Linked DNA regions of Homo sapiens. The protein of the gene in region 1 purifies or fractionates together with the protein of each later gene. This does not show direct contact. Each region holds a gene or a part of one and is shown in the gene's direction. Other genes may lie near its edges.

Region 1 (4,505 bases):
TAATCCCAGCACTTTGGGAGGCCAAGGCGGGTGGATCACCTGAGGTCAGGAGTTCAAGACCAGCCTGGCCAACATGGTGAAACCACTTCTCAACTAAAAATAAAATAAAATAAAAAATAAAAAATTTTAAAAAAATTAAAAAAAAAAAAAGGCTGGGTGTGGTGGTGGGTGCCTGTAATCCCAGCTACTCAGGAAGGAGGCTGAGGCAGGAGAACTGCTTGAACCTGGGAGGTGGAGGTTGCAGTGAGCCGAGATTGCGCCATTGCATTCTAGCCTGGGTGACAAGAGCGAAACTCTGTTTCAACAAAGAAAAGAAAAAGAGAAAAGAAAATGTGGAAGGCTTACCTAGGTGTCCAGGCCCCCAGCCCTCCTCAATTCCTACAGATCCTCAGAGCTCAAACAACTGATTCCTCCTCCCCATGTCCACTGAGGTCCCCTTCTCCCACAAGGCCCTCTTCCCTCAGACTCTTCCTATCTCCAGGCCCTGCGTCACTGCCCACCTGCTTTCCCAGTCCCTATGAAGGGTTTGCCTTCACATGCCTCTTCCTTCCCCCAGGCCACTGTGGGCTCGAGTAGGGGATGACCACCTGCTGCTTCTTCAGGGAGAGCAGCTCCGCCGGACCACTCGCTCTGTTGTCCATCCCAAGTACCACCAGGGCTCAGGCCCCATCCTGCCAAGGCGAACGGATGAGCACGATCTCATGTTGCTGAAGCTGGCCAGGCCCGTAGTGCTGGGGCCCCGCGTCCGGGCCCTGCAGCTTCCCTACCGCTGTGCTCAGCCCGGAGACCAGTGCCAGGTTGCTGGCTGGGGCACCACGGCCGCCCGGAGAGGCAAGAGCTGGGGCTCTGAGGCCGGAACCTCAGGAGGAGGGGGCTGAGGGCCTGAACCCCTGGGTCTGAGGAAGGATGGGCTGGGGACTGGATTCCTGGATCTGAGGGAGGACGGGCTGGGGTCCTAGATGCCTGGGTCTGTGAGTCTGAGGGGAGGAGGGGCTGGGGGCCTGGACTCCTGGGTCTAAGTGGGGAGGGGCTGGGGCCAGGATTCTTGAGTCTGAAGGAGGAGGGGCTGGGGCTTAGGATAGAAACGGTCTTGTATCTGGACTCCTGGCTCCCCAAGGATTGGGGGCTGGACCCAGGGATTACTGGCATATTCTCCCTTCAGTGAAGTACAACAAGGGCCTGACCTGCTCCAGCATCACTATCCTGAGCCCTAAAGAGTGTGAGGTCTTCTACCCTGGCGTGGTCACCAACAACATGATATGTGCTGGACTGGACCGGGGCCAGGACCCTTGCCAGGTAGGGTCTGAACAGGGAGAGTCTCTGACTCCTGGGAGGGAGGACAGGGAGGTTATGGGAAAAGAGCAGACCCTGTGCCCGATCCCCAACTCCATTCCCAAACCCATCCTTGACCCCAACTCTTACCCAGACCTAACCCCCTCCTCATCCCTATCCTCAATCCCATTTCCATCCCAACCCCACCCCATTCCCATCTCCAAGCCCATTTTCATCCCCTCACCTTCCATGAACTACAATCCCAACCCCAGTCTCACTGTGCCTTCATTCTCATCCCCCAGCCCAACCTCCCATAACCTGAAGTCCACCTCCATTCCTACCTTCCAGCTCATACCTAATTCCAACCCCATCCCATCCTCGTCTTTATCCCAACCCAACTCCTTCCTTCCCCACCACTGCCCCAGATCCCAAAGTGACAGCTCTCACGTTGGCACATTTATTTGATCTCTCCTTCCTGCCACCCCCAGAGTGACTCTGGAGGCCCCCTGGTCTGTGACGAGACCCTCCAAGGCATCCTCTCGTGGGGTGTTTACCCCTGTGGCTCTGCCCAGCATCCAGCTGTCTACACCCAGATCTGCAAATACATGTCCTGGATCAATAAAGTCATACGCTCCAACTGATCCAGATGCTACGCTCCAGCTGATCCAGATGTTATGCTCCTGCTGATCCAGATGCCCAGAGGCTCCATCGTCCATCCTCTTCCTCCCCAGTCGGCTGAACTCTCCCCTTGTCTGCACTGTTCAAACCTCTGCCGCCCTCCACACCTCTAAACATCTCCCCTCTCACCTCATTCCCCCACCTATCCCCATTCTCTGCCTGTACTGAAGCTGAAATGCAGGAAGTGGTGGCAAAGGTTTATTCCAGAGAAGCCAGGAAGCCGGTCATCACCCAGCCTCTGAGAGCAGTTACTGGGGTCACCCAACCTGACTTCCTCTGCCACTCCCTGCTGTGTGACTTTGGGCAAGCCAAGTGCCCTCTCTGAACCTCAGTTTCCTCATCTGCAAAATGGGAACAATGACGTGCCTACCTCTTAGACATGTTGTGAGGAGACTATGATATAACATGTGTATGTAAATCTTCATGGTGATTGTCATGTAAGGCTTAACACAGTGGGTGGTGAGTTCTGACTAAAGGTTACCTGTTGTCGTGATCTGACCACGTCCCGGTGAAAGCGTGTGTCCAGGGAAGAAGTGCACAGGGTAGCCCCCAGTCCCAACCTTCCATCCCCAACCCTTAGGGATGATGGAAGAATCATTTTCCTCACCCTAGTTCCAAGTCCCAGGAAACACCTTTTAACCACTTCCTTCTCATCTCCCACTGTTTCCCACTTCTGGTTCCACCCAACACCAGTTCCTCCGAGCTAGGCTGGCCCTGAGTCATTAGCACCTTCTCTGCCTTCATGAGGCCACTGAACTCAAGGGACCTCACCTTGCTTCTATCCCAGCCTCTAAGACCAGAGGGCCGAGGGGGTAGTGAAGATTGGGAAACCCTTGCCACCTCAACTGCCCAGCTTGTGCCAAGAAACCTCCCTCTGACATTTAGGGGAAAATCTTTGGTTTGTCTGTTATTAATTGGCTGTGAGATTTTCGTCCTGAAAACTTGGGAGGAGGAATTGTTTGATTCTCCCTGAAATTGGGGGAGGGAAGGGGAGTTAATACACAGAATCCAGGTAAGGCTAATAGAAGCTTCAGTGTCCGCTGGGTGTGGTGGCTCACGCCTGTAATCCTAGCACTTTGGGAGGCCGAGGAAAGCAGATCATCTGAGGTCAGGTGTTCGAGACCAGTCTGGCCAAAATGGTGAAATCCCATCTCTACTGAAAATACAAAAACTAGCCAGGCATGGTGGCAGGCACCTATAATCCCATCTACTTGGGAGGCTGAGGCAGAAGAATCACTTGAACCCGGGGGGCAGAGGTTGCAGTGAGCCAAGATTGCACCATTGCACTCCATCCAGCCTGGACAAAAGAGCAAAACTCCATCTCAAAAAAAGAAGAAGTTTGAGTGTCTCAGCTTATCCTGAACTTTGAAGCAGTAACATAAGCTAGCTGAATATAGGCACAACAGAAATTTCCCATTAAGCACGGGGTTTTTGTTTGTTTGTTTGTCCTTTCAGTTACCAATTTATGGAGCATCTATTATGTGCCAGGCCCAGTGCTGGGTGCTGGGGACATACGTAGGGGTGATCACAAGGTCCCCCACCCTGCAGAGCCCACAGGAGGTTGATGTACAAGGTCTGAGCACACAGCTCCCTTCCGTGGCCTCTTTCCCATTCTGCCCCCATTAGCACACGCAGGAAATGTCAGACAGGCGTATCAGCTGGGTTTGTCATCCAAAGACCAGAAGCGAGGTCGGTGGAAACTTGAAAACTCGATTCATTATTAAAGGCAACTCACCCGTCCCTTTAGTCACTCCACAATGTTTATCGAGCCACGTCTTATGCCAGGCCTCAAAGATGAATCAGACCAGGCACTACCCTCAAGGAGCTGCTAGTTAGGTCAGGGAGACAGGCCAGTCTTACATTCCTGTCATTCAGGTCTCCACTCAAAAGTCACCTCCTCCGGGAGGCCTTCCTGAATTGCCCAGGCTATAGGAGTCCACTTTTGGTCATCCAGTCCCGATGCTCTGTTTTTTGTTTGTTTGTTTTTTTTTTTAATAGCACCTATTATACCTGAAATTATCTCATTTGTGTTTACTTGATAATGGTCTATGTCACCCTTCCCCACAAATTCCGTGAGGGCAGTGATTCAGATATTTGTTCACTGTGATTTTCTAAGCTCCTGTATTGTGCCCGGCACACAGAAGTCACCCCCGTTGCTGTGTGAACACATAACACAAATAGATCAGTGCTGTAACAGAAGGGGGTATGGGGTGCACCACACCAAGTCCACAGGCTGTGCCTGAAGGAGTCAGGAAAGGCTTCTCAATGAGGGGACATTTGTGCAGGAGTTTAAAGGATAAGTAGGAGTTCACCAGGTAGAGAAGGAAATGCATTTCAATCACTTTGCTGTATGACTTTGAGCAAATTACTTGAATGCTGTCTCTTCCTCAGTTTTCACTCTGTGAAATGGAGACACCTGCTTAATTAGACTCCCGTGAGAGTTAAATGAGATAGGCTGGGCGCAGTGGCTCACTCCTATAATCCCAGAACTTTAGGAGGCTGAGATGGGTGGAATGCTTGAGCTCAGGAGTTTAAGATCAGCCTGAGCAACATAG
Region 2 (7,034 bases), on another chromosome or scaffold:
ATGAATGATTATTTTTCTCCTTGTCATTTCAGGCTTTCAGGTATAGGCTGGGTCACTAGTCTTAAAACATTTCTTCTTGAGAATGTCTAAAAGACTGTGGAATCTGTTAGATCTTATATACTTTTAAGTTGGCACCTGAAACTTTTCATCCTAGATTTACATAGTGTAAGTATTTAATTTTAAATAGTTTAGGATGTAATTTCTGACAAGTAAATATTGACTTCTTAAAAATAAATATAAAATTACCTAAATACAATATCAATTTGATGTTGTAAAAACATACAACTAAACTTTTGAAACAAAGACTGTAAGAAATACATAACATAGCTTATTACATTACTTGATTTTCAGATGTTAAACCCATCTTGCATTTGTGAAATGAACCCTGCTTAGTAATGTATCTACTACTTTTTACATATAGATGGATTCAATTTGCTAACATTTTGTTAATTTTTGTGACTGTGTTCATGATGGATATTGGTCTGAGGTTTCCTTTTTTTTATGTCATCTTTGGCCTTAGTAGCAGGGTAATTATGACCTCATAAAATGAATTGGGAAGTGTTCCTTCCTCCTCTGTTTTCTGAAATAGTTTGTGTAGGATTGGTATTATTTCTTACGTGTTTCATAGAATTTACCAGTGAAGTCCTATGGGCCTGGGTTTTTCTCTCTGGGAAGATTTTACTAATTCAATTTCTTAATATAGTTAGTTGAGTTAGTTTTGGTCATTTTTATCATTTTGGGAGTTTGTCCATTACATATTTTTCCTTTTTCTTTTTGAACTTGTATCCATTCCACTTTTCCCACAGAATTTTATCCTAAAGCAAAAGTCAACTTTCTGTCAAAGGCCAGATGAAAGGCTTTATGGGCCACATGGTTTCTGTGATTACTGCTTAATTCTCACTGTAGTGAGAAAACAGCCATAGACAATATGTGGCCGGGTGCGGTGGCTCACGCCTGTAATCCCATCACTTTGGGAGACTGAGGCAGGCGGATCACGAGGTCAGGAGATCGAGACCATCCTGGCTAACACAGTGAAACCCCGCCTCTACTAAAAAATACAAAAAAAATTAGCCGGGCGTGTTGGTGGGCGCCTGTAGTCCCAGCTACTTGGGAGGCTGAGGCAGGAGAATCGCTTGAACCCGGGAGGTGGAGGTTGCAGTGAGCCGAGATCGCTCCACTGCACTCCAGCCTGGACGACAGAGCAAGACTGTCTCAAAAAAACCCAAAAAAACCCAGAAAATAGCCGTAGATAATATGCAAGTATTTTTGTGTAGTTGTGTTCCAATAAAACTTTATTGGTAGCAGACCAGATCTGGTTTAGGGCTGTAGTTTTCCTACCCATCCTAAAGTAATAAATTTTATGCCTGAAAATTTAAAATTGATCATCTAGTTATCCACACAGATCAGGTTTATGAGAGTAGCATGGAAGTTGATTCCCTTGCTTGCATATCTTTGTGTACCCCCTACGGACATGTGTATTCCAGTGTAAAGACCAGGACTTGATTTCCAAGATGTTGTAGAGGGAATTCATGTATTTTTGTAATTTTGTTTGGGTGAGAAGTGAGGTGGCCCTCACAGCGCCATAACTTAAGTTCCCTATGTGATCGGTATTCTTTCTGGCAAAAGGAGACATTTGAACTAAAATTTTTTATGTTGTAGACACTATATGGATTATCTCATTTAATCTTAAAATAATCCATATAGTATCTTAAAATAATCCATATAGTATCTTAAAATAATTCATATAGTGGTTCTATGAGATAGGTGTATAATTGGCATAATTCCCTACAGATGAGGCAGTTGAGACTCAGATTAGGTAATTTGCCCAGGTCGTAGTGCTGGTTAGTAAGGAAGTTCAGAAGTGAACCAGGGGCTGTGATGTCTGATTTCATTTTTTTCTTTTTTTTTTTTTTTGAGACAGGGTCTTGCTCTGCCACCCAGGCTGGAGTGCAGTGGTGCAATCTTGGCTCACTGCAACCTCCGCCTCCCAACACTTCTGACTAATTTTTTGTATTTTTTCTAGAGACAGAGTTTTGCCATGTTGCCCAGGCTGGCTTTGAACTCCTAGGCTCAAGCGGTCAGCCCTCCTTGGCCTCCCACAGTGCTAGGATTGCAGACACTAGCCACCTGAGGCGTGAGCCACCACACCCAGTGTGATTTCAGAATTTTATTCTCTTTTCACCGTGCTGCCTTTTATGGAAGATATGGGTTTAGTACTGGATTTAGATAGGGGATTGTGCTGGATTTCTTTTTCTGAGGCGGGGTGGGGGTGGAAACAGTCTTGCTATGTTGTCCAGGCTGGTCTGAAACTCCTGGCCTCAAGTGATCCTCCTGCCTCAGCCTCCCAAAGTGCTGGGATGTAGGGCCTGAGCCATCATGCTGGGTTGCATATTTTCTTTTAAGATCTCTGCCTTTCCCAATATTTTGATTAAACAAACACCTTTCCTGTTGTGTGGAACAATTCCTAGTTTTTCAGAAATCTATAACTACTCACTCATCCACAGCTGTTAATTATAATTGTTTTTAGCAGGCCAAGGGTTGTTTATTGGATCTGAATGCTGTGAGTTGTCTGATGTGGCACAGAGATGGAGGTAGCTAGATTTGTAATTGGCAACTTGTTTATTTGTAATTTATGGATCATTTGGGCGCTGCCTTAGTAATATAATAGATGGAAGAGTGTTTAGCGCTACCTGACTTTGTTATCCAAAGGCTTATCAGAATAATGATAAAGTCCCATTACTTATCTGGCATTCAGTAGTCTGGAAATCCTGATAGTTCAGCATTTGAGCAAAATAGTCCCATAATTAAAAGTAATCTGGAAAATCTTGATTATGTCACATCTGTGGCTCCCTTCCTAGCTACACAGATTGTTAGGATAGATTTTAATAACAAGTTGGCAAAATAAGTGTTGGTTAGCTAGCTGCACAAACATTGCATTTTTTTGAAATATTTAACATTGTTGAATACTACACAGAAAAATTAGTTTTTTTTAGAAGTGGAATTGTTTGAAGGATTTATTGTCATGAATAGGCTTTACAGGGAAGATGTATTTTTTTTTATTGTACATCAAATCCTGTCAGCAAACTTACACTAGTAATGTATTAATGAGATGAAGGATATTCCAAAGTAGCTAGATTTGTAATTGGCAACTTGTTTATTTGTATAAGAACAAAGTGGTAAATGAATTAAAGTATTCTTACCTGGAGGTGTTTAAGAAATGGAGGCAGGGCCGGGCGCAGTGGCTCACGCCTGTAATCCCAGCACTTTGGGAGGCCGAGGCGGGCGGATCATGAGGTCAGGAGATCGAGACCATCCTGGCTAACACGGTGAAACCCCATCTCCACTAAAAATACAAAAAATTAGCCGGGCGCGGTGGCGGGCACCTGTAGTCCCAGCTACTCAGGAGGCTGAGGCGGGAGGATGGTGTGAACCCAGGAGGCGGAGCTTGCAGTGAGCTGAGATAGTGCCACTGCAGTCCGGCCTGGGCGAAAGAGCGAGACTCCGTCTCAAAAAAAGAAAAAAAAAAAAGAAATGGAGGGAGAAGGAAGACAAATAAGACTAAATGAACTTTGGTAGCAAGTTCTTGACTGAATAGTAATTCACAACATCTCTGAATTCAGTAGTCATTACAATTTTAGGAATAATTTATTGGGAGAATAACAGTATCAATGAAGCAAGAGTAAATAAGAAGTATGTTTAAGAAAATACCAAAACCATTGCACCCCACCAGAATGAGTAAGTTGAAGAGAACAATAGTACCAAGTTTTGGCAAGATGAGGAGCAGAAAGAACTCACGTATGGTGGGTTGTATAAATGTAGATGGTAATACAAAATGGTACAACCACTTTGGAAAACTGTTCAGTGGTTCCTAATAAAGTCATAAATATAACATGACTTCCTGTGTTATATGCCCAGTAGAAATGGATGTATTTGTCCATCGCAGAAATATACTGTATACAGTTTAAGAATATTATTTGTAATAAGTCAGAACTAGAAATAACCCAACTATGTATCAGCAGTAGAATGGATAAATACATTGAGGCATGCTTACAGAAAACAGCACAGCTATGAGAAAGAATAAACTTCTGATACATGCAACAATGGGGATGAATCTCACAAATGTACTTTTTTTTTTTTTTTTTTTGAGACAGCATCTCGCTCTGTCACCCATACTGGAGTGCAGTAGCAGGATCTTGGCTCACTGCAACCTCCGCCTCCCCAGTTCAAGCGATTCTTGTGCCTCAGCCTCCTGAGTAGCTGGGATTACAGGCATGTGCCACCACGCCCAGCTAATTTTTTGTATTTTTAGTAGAGACAGGGTTTTGCCATGTTGGCTAGATTGGTATTGAACTCTTGACCTCAAGTGATCCACCCGCCGTGGCCTCCCAAAGTGCTGGGATTACAGGCATGAGCCACCATGCCTGGCCTCACAGATGTACTTTTGAGCAAAAGAAGACAAACACTCTGAAAGAGAACCTTTATGATTCTGTTTATGTGAAGCTCAAAATCAGGCTCAAATAATCTTTCATGATAGATGTCAGAATAATAACTACCTGTAGGAGGACACAATGGAGCCTTTTGAGGTGTTGGAAATAGTCTGTCTTGTTTTGAGTGGTGGTCACATGGGTGAATTGATATGTAAAATTTCAGGGAGGTGTACACTTAAAATATGTAGACTGACTTACTGTATATGTTATACCTTGATAGAAAAGTAGAAAATAAAAGACAAGATTGGTTCCTTGTAGCTCCTGTATCTCCTGTACTTCTTTTGACGTGGAGGTGTTAGCTGTATAATTGATGGAGCCCCTTCCCTAGTCCGATTAGGAACCCAGTTGATGGGCACTGTACTTGTTTTAGATTTACTGTTTTCTGTAAATAGCATAATTTTCTTTATAGAATAAACCTGTTTGAGGAGTTTTGAATAATGCTATTTTACCAAGGGAAGTTTCTGAGGAAAGGGAAGTTTGTTACACATTCAGTGGTTATATTTTTAAAAGTTTCTATTAATATTAACTACATAGAAGAACACTTATAAACGAGTATCCACATTTTCAAAGTGTTAAAAATTCTATTCAGTTACTACTACCATAATATAAACTTGAATGCACAACATCAGTGTCTTAAAGATATATGTTAAATAAAACAGTAAAAGCCTTTTCATATCTGGTTAATTTCTGGTGCTTTTTATTCTGCATCTATCTAAGCATCTGAGTAGAATTATGATGGATTATAAATGATAGGAAAGGAAACTCATGCTTTTGTGACATTAGGCAAAGGTTGATCAGGAAGGGAAAAGAAGCCTAAAATGTGTGTATTTTGTGCTTTTTTACCATCATCATTATTGTTGAAATTGTGTTGCATTGAAAATTTACCCAAGGGCCAGGCACAGTGGCTCATGCCTGTAATCCTAGTGCAGAGGCTGAGGTGAGCAGATCACCAGAAGGCAGGAGTTCGAGATCAGTCTGGCCAACATGGTGAAACCCCATCTCTACTAAAAATACAAAAATTAGCTGGGTGTGGTGGCGGGCGCCTGTAGTCCCAGCTACTCAGGAGGCTGAGGAAGGAGAATTGCCTGATTGAACCTGGGAGGCAGAAGTTGCAGTGAGCCAAGATTGCGCCACTGCACTCTAGCCTGGGCGACAGAGCAAGGCTCTGTTTCATTCTATAATAAATGTAACAAAAAAAAGCCTGTATGAGCCTGCTAATTCATTGTTCTTTTAATCTTCGGTTCTGTCCGCATAGTTTTATGATACTGGCTCAGTTAGATCACTAGAGAACTATCTAGAGTTTGATTAATCCCTAGAGCTGGACTCTTTCAGACTTAGTGTTTCTAATGGGGCATACTGTTTTTTGTTTTTTTTTTTGAGACAGGGTCTTGCTGTGTTGCCCAGCCTGGTCTTGAATTCCTGGACTCAAGTGATGCTCCTGCCTTGGCTTCCCAAACTCCTGGAATTACAACTGTGAGCCACTGCACCCAGCCAGGAGTGCTTTATTTTTATTTATTTTTTATTTTTTTCTAGACGGAGTCTTGCTCTGTTGCCCAGGCTGGAGTGCAGTGGTGCGGTGTCGGCTCACTGCAGGCTCCGCCTCTTGGGTTCAAGCAGTTATCCTGTCAGCCTCCTGAGTAGCTGGGATTACAGGTGCATGCCACCATGCCGTCCACGTCGGCCTCCCAAAGTGCTGGGATTATAGGCGTGAGCCATTGCGGCTGGCCTGGAGGAGTGCTGTATATGCTTTTTTGCCCCTTTCCCTTCATTTATGTATTTATTTTGAGACAAAGTCTTGCTCTTGTTAGCAGGCTGGAGTGCAGTGGCGCAATTTCTGCTCACTGTATCCTCTGCGTCTTGGGTTCAAGTGGTTTTCCCACCTCAGCCTCCTAAATAGCTGGGATTACAGGCACCCACCACCACACCTGGCTAATTTTTGTATTTTTAGTAGAGATGGGGTTTCACCATGTTGGCCAGGCTGGTCTCAAACTCCTCAGGTGATCCACCTGCCTCGGCCTCTGAAAGTGCTGGGATTATAGGAGTGAGCCACCGTGGCTGGCCTATTTAATTTTTTTTGAGATGGAGTCTTGTTCTTGTTGCCCAGGCTGGAGTGCAATGGTGTGATCTCAGCTCACTGCAACCTTCGCCTCCCAATTTCAAGTGACTCCCCTGCCTCAGCCTCCCAAGTAGCTGGGATTACAGGCATGCACCACCATGCCCGGCTAATTTTTTTTTTTTGAGACCGAGTCTTGTTCTCGTTGCCCAGGCTGGAGTGCAATGGCACGATCTCAGCCCACTGCATCCTCCGCCTCCCGGGTTCAAGCGATTCTCCTGCTTCAGCCTCCTGAGTAACTGGGATTACAGGAACATGCCACCGCATTTGGCTAATTTTTGTATTTTTAGTAGAGATGGGGTTTCACCTTGTTGGTCAGGCTGGTCTCGAACTCCTGACCTTGTGATCCACCTGCCTCAGCCTTCCAAAGTGCTGGGATTACAGGCGTGAGCCACTGCGCCCGGCCAATTTTGTATTTTTAGTAGATATGGGGT

The links. Proteins that work in one complex are often made in the same cells at the same time.
Region 2: the proteins of KLK10 (region 1) and EDC3 purify together in Homo sapiens (affinity purification with mass spectrometry; 3 studies listed by BioGRID and IntAct, with this or other methods). This does not show direct contact.

What each region holds. Positions count from the first base shown.
Region 1 is NC_000019.10:51,012,208-51,016,712, reverse strand, and holds the end of KLK10 (kallikrein-10 preproprotein), read left to right. Parts: intron 1-556; coding exon 557-831; intron 832-1,162; coding exon 1,163-1,296; intron 1,297-1,760; coding exon 1,761-1,913; 3' UTR 1,914-3,974; downstream 3,975-4,505. UniProt on the Homo sapiens protein: Has a tumor-suppressor role for NES1 in breast and prostate cancer.
Region 2 is NC_000015.10:74,686,017-74,693,050, reverse strand, and holds part of EDC3 (enhancer of mRNA-decapping protein 3), read left to right. Parts: intron 1-32; exon of another isoform or gene 33-165; intron 166-5,871; exon of another isoform or gene 5,872-5,960; intron 5,961-7,034. UniProt on the Homo sapiens protein: Binds single-stranded RNA. Involved in the process of mRNA degradation and in the positive regulation of mRNA decapping. May play a role in spermiogenesis and oogenesis.